Linked DNA regions of Homo sapiens. The protein of the gene in region 2 purifies or fractionates together with the protein of the main gene of each other region. This does not show direct contact. Each region holds a gene or a part of one and is shown on either strand. Other genes may lie near its edges.

Region 1 (4,028 bases), on a different chromosome or scaffold from region 2:
TGTTGTTGAGATGGGGTCTTGCTATCTCGCCCAGGCTAGTCTTGTACACCTGGGCTCAAGTGATCCTCCTGCCTCAGCCTCCCAAAGTGCTGGGATTACAGGTGTGAGCCACCACACCCAGCCAAACGTGTATATATATACATGTATGTGTATTTTTTTTAATGGCATTATTCTGCACATCTTTAAAAATCACGCAAATGGCTGAGCACGGTGGCTCACGCCTGTAATCCTAGCACTTTGGGAGGCCAAGTTGGGTGGAACACTTGAGGTCAGGAGTTCAAGACCAGCCTGGCCAACATGGTGAAACCCTGTGGCCACTAAAAATAGGAAAATGAGCTGGGCATGGTGGTGCATGCCTGTAATCCCAACTACTCGGGAGGCTGAGGCAGGAGAATCACTTTAACCCAGGAGGTGGAGGTTGCAGTGAGCTGAGATCACGCCACTGCACTCCAGCCTGGGCAACAGAGTGAGACTCCATCTCAAAAAAAAAAAAAAAATTAATTACACAAATGACACTCTATACATATCTGACCTGTATTCATTCAATAATCTGACATGACTATTGAACCAGTTCTAGTTCATTCACGCAGCTCTAGTTTATTCATTTTAGCTACTTAATTGTTTTATAAATATACCTTTACTCATTTTCCTGTTAATGAACATTTACTTTATTTCCTAATTTTCACTTAAACATTCAACTAGTGAACATTCTAGTACACGTCTTCCTATGCATATAAGCAAGAATTTCTCTAGGATAAGCCTCTAGACATGGAATTGCTAGGTAACAAATTATGTGCATTTTTTTCAGCCAGGAGCATTGGCTCACGCCTCTAATCCCAGCACTTTGGGAAGCAGCTCACCTGAGGTCAGGAGTTCGAGACCAGCCTGGCCAACATGGCAAAACCCTGTCTCTACTAAAAATACAAAACTTAACCGGGCGTTGTGGCATGTGCCTGTAATCCCAGCTACTCAGGAGGCTGAGGCAGGAGAATTGCTTGAACCCAGGAGGCAGAGATTGTGGTGAGCCGAGATCATGCCACTGCATTCTAGCCTGGGCGACATAGACTGTCTCAAAAAAATAAATAAAAAACAAATTATGTGCATTTTTAATGAAAGTGACTGTACCATTCCATGCACTCATATAGCCATGCTTCATATTCTCATCCTTGGTATTTTTAATTTTGCCAACTTACTAGTTTTGAAATGGCATTTGATGTTTTTAATTCATTTCCTTGTTTCCTTTGAGGTTAAACATCCTTTCATGTTTATTGGTCATTTTGGCTTCCTCTTTTGTGAACTGCCTCTTCATGTCCCTTGTCTTTTACTTATTACTTGCAGAAATTCCATACACGTCCTGGATGTAAATCTTCTCTTCTAGAAGTATCTTAGGTATACTTTATTGTATGAAAGTTTTAGGTTTTTTGCTTTGTTTTGTTTTGTTTTTTTGAGACGGAATCTCACTCTGTCGCCCAGGCTGGAGTGCAGTGGCGCGATCTCAGCTCACTGCAAGCTTCGCCTCCCGGGTTCAGGCCATTCTCCTGCCTCAGCCTCCCAAGTAGCTGGGACTACAGGCGCCCGCCACCACGCCCGGCTAATGTTTTGTATTTTTAGTAGAGACGGGGTTTCACCGTGTTAGCCAGGATGGTCTCAATCTCCTGACCTGGTGATCTGCTCACCTCGGCCTCCCAAAGTACTGGTATTACAGGCGTGAGCCACCGCGCTTGGCGAAAGTTTTAAGTTTTAACGTAGTCAAATTTACACAACATGGATTATATTTTCCTGTGTCTTATTTTAAGCAATATCCCTTCCTATCCTGAGATCAGGATTGTTCCCCCTACCTGTTCTTCTACATGACTTCAAGTTTTGTTTTTTTAACATTCCAGGCTCTTATTTACCTGGAATTTGTTTCTGCATCAGGGATTGGCAAACTACAGCCCATGGGCCAAATACAACCCACTACCTTTTGTTTTGTTTTGCTTTAAGACTCCGTCACCCTGGCTGGAGTGCAGTGGTGCTATCTCAGCTCACTGCAACCTCTGCCTCCTGGGTTCAAGTGATTCTTGTGTCTTAGCCTCCAGAGTAGCTGGAATTATAGACACCCACCACCATGCCCAGCTATTTTTTGTATTTTTAGTAGAGACAGGGTTTCACCATGTTGGCCAGGCTGGTCTCAAACTCCTGACCCCAAGTGATCCATCTGCCTTAGCCTCCCAAAGTGCTGGCCATGCCTAAACTGGCCCACTACCAGTTTTTGTAAGTAAAGTTTTATCGTAGCACAGCCATGCCCATTTGTTTACATATTGTCTATGGCTTCAAGGATAAAGGAGAGTGTGACAGAAACCATATGGTCTGGAAAGCCTAAAATATTTATGATTTGGCCCTTAACAGAAAAAGTCTGTTGATCTGAGATATATGAGAGGAGGCAGGAAATTATTTTTTGCCAGATGATGGATAACTAGCATCATTTACAGATCAGTCTATCTTTTCCCAACTAGGAACTCTATATCCGAAATTCCCAATATACCTGGGTCTGTTTCTGTGCATTTGTTTTGAATATATACCATAAGTATCAAGAATGGAATGGAAACCAAATGGAAGCCTATGGCAAAATAATGCTGCCTCCTCAATCTTTATAAAACCAGCTCCCTCTTGACATTTAAGCTAAGATTTGAATGTCATCTCCTTAGAGGACATCCTTAACCACTCAATCTTAACAGAGATGACTGCCTAGACCAGGGTGTTAATTGTCACAGATGGTGAGACGTGGTAGGATTTCGATATGTGTGAGGTAGACCTAACAGATTTGCTGATGGATCAGATATAGAGTAGGAGGAAAGAAGAGGTTCAAAGATGTACTAAAGTTTTGGGCTGAGCAACTAAAAATCCAAAAATGCAGCCGGGAGCGGTGGCTCATGCCTGTAATCCCAGCCTTTGGGAGGCCGAGGCAGGCAGATCACCTGAGGTCAGGAGTACAAAACCAGCCTGACCAACATGGTGAAACCCTGTCTCCAAAAATTAGCTGGTCATGGTGGCGCATGCCTGTAATTCCAGCTACTTGCGAGGCTGAGGCAGGAGAATCACTTGAACCCAGGAGGCGGAGGTTGCAGTGAGCCAAGATCCGCCACTGCACTCCAGCTTGAACGATAAGAGCGAAACTCCATCTCAAAAAAAAGAAAAGAAAAAAAGCCAAAATACTACTTCTTGAGAAAAACTGATGAGCAGGTTTAAAATGACTAAATCTGGCATAAAATTTTAGATATTGTAAGTTGAAGGTATCTACTGGATTAAGCTTGTCCATCCCGCGGCCCAGGATGGCTCTGAATGTGCCCAACACAAATTCGTAAACTTTCTTAAAACATTATAAGTTTTGCGATTTTTTTTTAGCTCATCTGCTATTGTTAGCGTTAGTGTACTCTATGTGTGGCTCAAGACAATTCTTCTTCCAATGTGGCCTAGGGAAGCCAAAAGACTGGACACCTCTATATTGGTCAGGTAGAGATACAAACTGAACCTAAAGTTGGATATACCAGTCTGGATTCAGGGGCAAGGATCCAACGTAGTGATGTAAATTTGGGACTCAATGCATTGATGGTATTTAAAGTCTGAATCGAATCCCTAACAGGACCATCTCCAGCTTCTACTCTTACCACATCCAGCCTCCAAAAAGCACCTAGAATGATTTTTTTTTTTTTTTGAGACAAGATCTCACTGTGTTGCAGTGGTGGGATCATAGCTTACTGCAGCCTCAAACTCCTGGGCTCAAGTGATCTTTCTGCTTCAGCCTCCTGAATAACTCACAACACCCAGCTATTTATTTTTTCTTTTTGTAGAGATGGAGTCTCTCTATGCTGTACAGGTTGATCTCGAACTGGCCTCAGGTGATCCTCCTGTCTCAGCCTCCCAAAGCCCTTGATTACAGGCATGAGCCACCATGCCCTAGAATGATCTTTTTAAGATATAAGTTCAGATCACTCCTCTTTCAAAATTTTAAATTAATATTCTTTCTGTATTTTGTTTGACACATGGTC
Region 2 (4,147 bases):
TATGTCCCAGCACTAAGCTTAGCATTTTGTTATTTCCTTTCCTCTGTTCCAACCCTTTGAGGTTGATATCCCTGGATCCACTAATAAAGTGAAGAAACCTGTGAGGTTTGGGAGTTATTCTCATCCTGCACCTGATTCCTCCCCTTGGAGACAAAACCCTTGCCTCTTATGAAAGGTTGAGGAAACAATTATGAGTGCCTCATTTTGTCCCTAATTTTCCCCCAGCCTCTTTCTCACCACCTGCTAGAACTTCCTTGTCTCCCCTGACCCACCATGGAGAAGAGGCCAGGATATCCCTTGAGTGCAGGGGTCTAAGATTCATGAGTTGGGGAAGTATTTGCGCTAGCTTTGCTGTCCGCATGGCCAAGCTGCCTTCCCCCTCTGTCTTCACGTCTAACCAGCCTGCTCCACCCTCCCAGGGAGAAGAGAATAACAGCAAAGTCTCACCTTGAGGTGCCAAAGTTCCACCCGCCGATGGACAGTAGTGTTTTCAGCTCTCTGTTCCTATGATGTGAGAGAGAGGGTTGATGAGCTGGGTTCTTCACTCCGGTGGGCAGCTGCTGCCACATTCTTTTATTTTGCTCATTGGAAGAAAACAGGAAACAGGAGAGATGGGAGGTAAGGAAAGGAAAAGGGGGAAGGTGATAGAAGGAGAGAGATGATGAGCACAGGAGAGAGGAGGAAAGACAGAGAGAACAATCAACCCAAGGGCCATCACAGCCCAACAACTCCAAGGCTGCACAAAGTCTGCCAAACTCGCGCATGTCCCTATGATGCTTCCAAAAAAAGAGCAGTCTAAAATGTTTCTCTTTTTCCTATTCAACAAATATTTATTGAGCAATGTCTATGTGCCATTTACTGCTTTAGGCACTTTAGAACAAAGAACAACACAGATAAGCTCCCCACTTTCAGGGAGTTTATAATCTAGTGGCATAGAACTTTTACTCTGCCCATCTATAACCATTAATGCAGTAACAAGCCTTCCTTTGGGCACAGAGAGATCCCAGGAGTTCCGGAGAGAGGAAAATGTAAGCAAACACTTACTGAGCACCAACCCTGTGTGAGACACTGACCTAGCCACTGGGGATACAACAACACAGCAGACACTGCCCCTTCCCTGGAGTAGCTCACCGGTAACAAACGGTAATAAAAACATGAGCATTTGTTGAGCATTTGGGATGTGTAAGCCCACTTTAACAGCATTAATAACTAAAATCCTCACAACTAGGTTCAAAGGCTGAGTTGGGTTTTGCCAGGCAGAGAAGAGAGAGAAGCACATTCCAGGCAGAGACAACAGCAACTACAAAAGTAAGGAGGCAGGAAAGAGCTCAAGGTGTCTGTGACAAGGAGTTCTCAAGTTGGGGGTGCTCTGGACCCCTATTTGAGAGGAAGGTAGGACTGGAAGAAATAGAAGAAAGTTGAAGAGTAACAGGAGAAATAGACTGTTATCTTATACCTGTGAAATCTGAAAATACAACCCCCACATCCAATATGAACACACCTCTCCTTTAGTTTGTTGAACTCTGGGTAGAGAATTTTCTCATCCTGGAGATCCTTAGCAACAATCTGATTGTTGTTCATTGAGGCAAAGGCAAATATCAGGTGGGTGCAGAGAAAGGGGTCCAGGTCATGGGGCAAGATCGAGGCAGGGCCTGGCCGACTGTGTGCCCAGTTGGTGAAATAACACACGAGTTTATGGGCAGCACCTGGTAAGGGAGAGCACACATTAGTTGGCAAAAACCAAGGGAGGGGATGGAGCTCAGCTTCCAGAAAGCAATGTGAACGCAGCCCAAGAGACCAGGCCACATTTTCACATCCTCTCTCCCTGGCCCTGAAGTACACCTCAGAACTACACTGAGGTTCTATTCCTCCCCCACTGCTGAGGTCTCAGGAAGAAAACAATGCCTTGTGAAATCCTGGTCAGAACAGATTCTCAAGTCTGGACCAAGGCACACAGTCAGCGACACAAACAGCAGGTGACCAAAAATCCTCTGAGAAACTGTGTTGGATCAATAATCCCTGTCAGAGAAGCCAGGGCAAGGTGGGCTGCAGGGGACACTCAATGTGGAGGACTTCTCAGCCAGAGACTCTCCCTGGCTCTGGAAGGGAAAACACAGTTTCCTTACCATCGTGGTGTTTCAGCACAAGAACCAGCCCTGTGAGAAACAAAGGAAGGAGTCACACAGAGATTCATACCCTCACCAGAGTGGTATGGCACAGCACACCCTCTGATTAGCAAGGGTGCCCACCAACACACCACCTTATGCAGATGCAGACACACAAATGGGGACACACACACCATTTACTCGTTTCCTAGTTTCTAAAGTTGGACCAGTGGAGCTAGATATAAGTTCCTTTTCTTTTTGATAAACATGTGTATATGCTCATGCTTTGCCCAGGGACAATGACAAGTGTTAGAAGTCCCAGAAAAAGCTCGAGGCCAGTGGTTCTGAACCCTGGCTGCAAATTAAGAAGTACTGATATCCTGGCTGGTCATGCAGAGATTCTAACAGAACTGGTCCAAGGTGGAACTCAGGCATTTAAAATTTCTAATGGGCCACCAGGTTTGAGAACCACTGCTCTGACCACTTCTCCCTGGGTCCCTCTGACCTCTGACCATTAACTATGGCCCATCCCATCTCTACCTAATCTAGGCTTCCCTGAGTCTCAGGCTGCTCTCTCAGGCACCAGAGAGATGACGAACTCATAAAGCCTGGCACTTCCTGGACTGAGTGACACTGCTGGGACCTGCCACACTCACCAACCCACAGCAACAGCTTCCACATCTCAATGGTCTGATAGCTGTGAGTCCAGAGATGCAGCCCTTTATAGGAGCTTCCCTGTGGATAGCGCTGGGACAGCCCAGCTACACATACACACACACACACACACACACACACACACACACACACACACACACACACACCCCAGTGCCAGGATCAGTAATTTATGAGAGTCACAGTGACCCCAGAACGACCTGGCCTCCCTCTCCAACAAAGCAACAGCACCAGGTTGGCACTGAATACCAGGAAGAGGGTCTTCCTGGTATTCAGTACCACAGGGACTGAATATGGGGGAGAAACCCCATATGGTAGCAGCAATTCTATTATTAAAAGATTATTGGCTGGGAAGCAGCGTAATTTTTAAAAAAAGTTTAAACCATAGCTTTGGATTTAGGCTTTGAATCCAAGGTTTGAATTCAAAGTTTGAATCTCAGTGTCACCACTTAGAAGTTTTGTAATCTTGCACAAATTACCTGCCTCTGTGAGGTCAGTTTCCATGCTTGTAAAATGGAGATGACAGCTCAGACTTACCTCATAGAGCTTTATAGAGATCAAAGAGATAATGGGTCAAAAATTGTTAGTTTCGTGCTCGCATATAATAAGGGCTCAGTGAATGGTAGCTATTATTAGGGATGTCAAAAGGGTTGCCCAGCAGAGCAGAGTTCTCAAACTCAGATGACGCTTGCCAGGCAGGTAATGTAAATGGATGGTGTAGATGCAATAAAACAGCTATCTCTATTTTATTAGAAAAGTAACAGTTCATGCCCAATGATGTACATCAACTGACATGAAGCCTCTTGGTCAGGAGACAACAGAGATCAGTATAAAGAGGGACAGCACTCTGAGCAGCTGCTAATGGTTTCCCTGCAGGGAAACAGACCCAGTGTTGCTGGATCCTTCAGTTTCTCAGGAGAAGGCAAAACCTGAATTTTTATGAGTCAACAATATTTGAGTCAGTATATGAGCCAATTGTGAGGATGTGTCATGAACCTCAAGAATATGATGGATACAATTCTGGACATCTAAGAGCCAGTTTTTTAAAAATGCAACAACAGGAGTATGAAAGATAAAATATATATATATATATATATATATATATATATATATATATATATACCGTTTTTATTACCAGACTGCAAGCCAGATGCTTTTATGATTCATCAGTTTTCTTTCTCTGCTACAGAGGGTCTTGGACCTTATGCCCACCTTCACAGAGACTGATGCTGCTCATCTAATCCACATGAACTACTCACGAGGTATTAACCAGATGTCAATATAATCCACGACACAGGGAAATAATGACTAGTGGTCAAATTCATATAACATCTATCCTTCATTTCCAGTATGAAGAAACCAGGAGTCAT

What was found.
Region 1: the proteins of OVGP1 (region 2) and AKAP10 purify together in Homo sapiens (affinity purification with mass spectrometry; one large-scale study listed by BioGRID and IntAct). This does not show direct contact.

Annotation. Positions count from the first base shown.
Region 1 is NC_000017.11:19,971,028-19,975,055, forward strand, and holds part of AKAP10 (A-kinase anchor protein 10, mitochondrial isoform 1 precursor), read right to left. Parts: intron 1-4,028. UniProt on the Homo sapiens protein: Differentially targeted protein that binds to type I and II regulatory subunits of protein kinase A and anchors them to the mitochondria or the plasma membrane.
Region 2 is NC_000001.11:111,424,936-111,429,082, forward strand, and holds the start of OVGP1 (oviduct-specific glycoprotein precursor), read right to left. Parts: upstream 2,801-4,147; 5' UTR 2,787-2,800; coding exon 2,762-2,786; intron 2,157-2,761; coding exon 2,127-2,156; intron 1,707-2,126; coding exon 1,502-1,706; intron 505-1,501; coding exon 448-504; intron 1-447. UniProt on the Homo sapiens protein: Binds to oocyte zona pellucida in vivo. May play a role in the fertilization process and/or early embryonic development.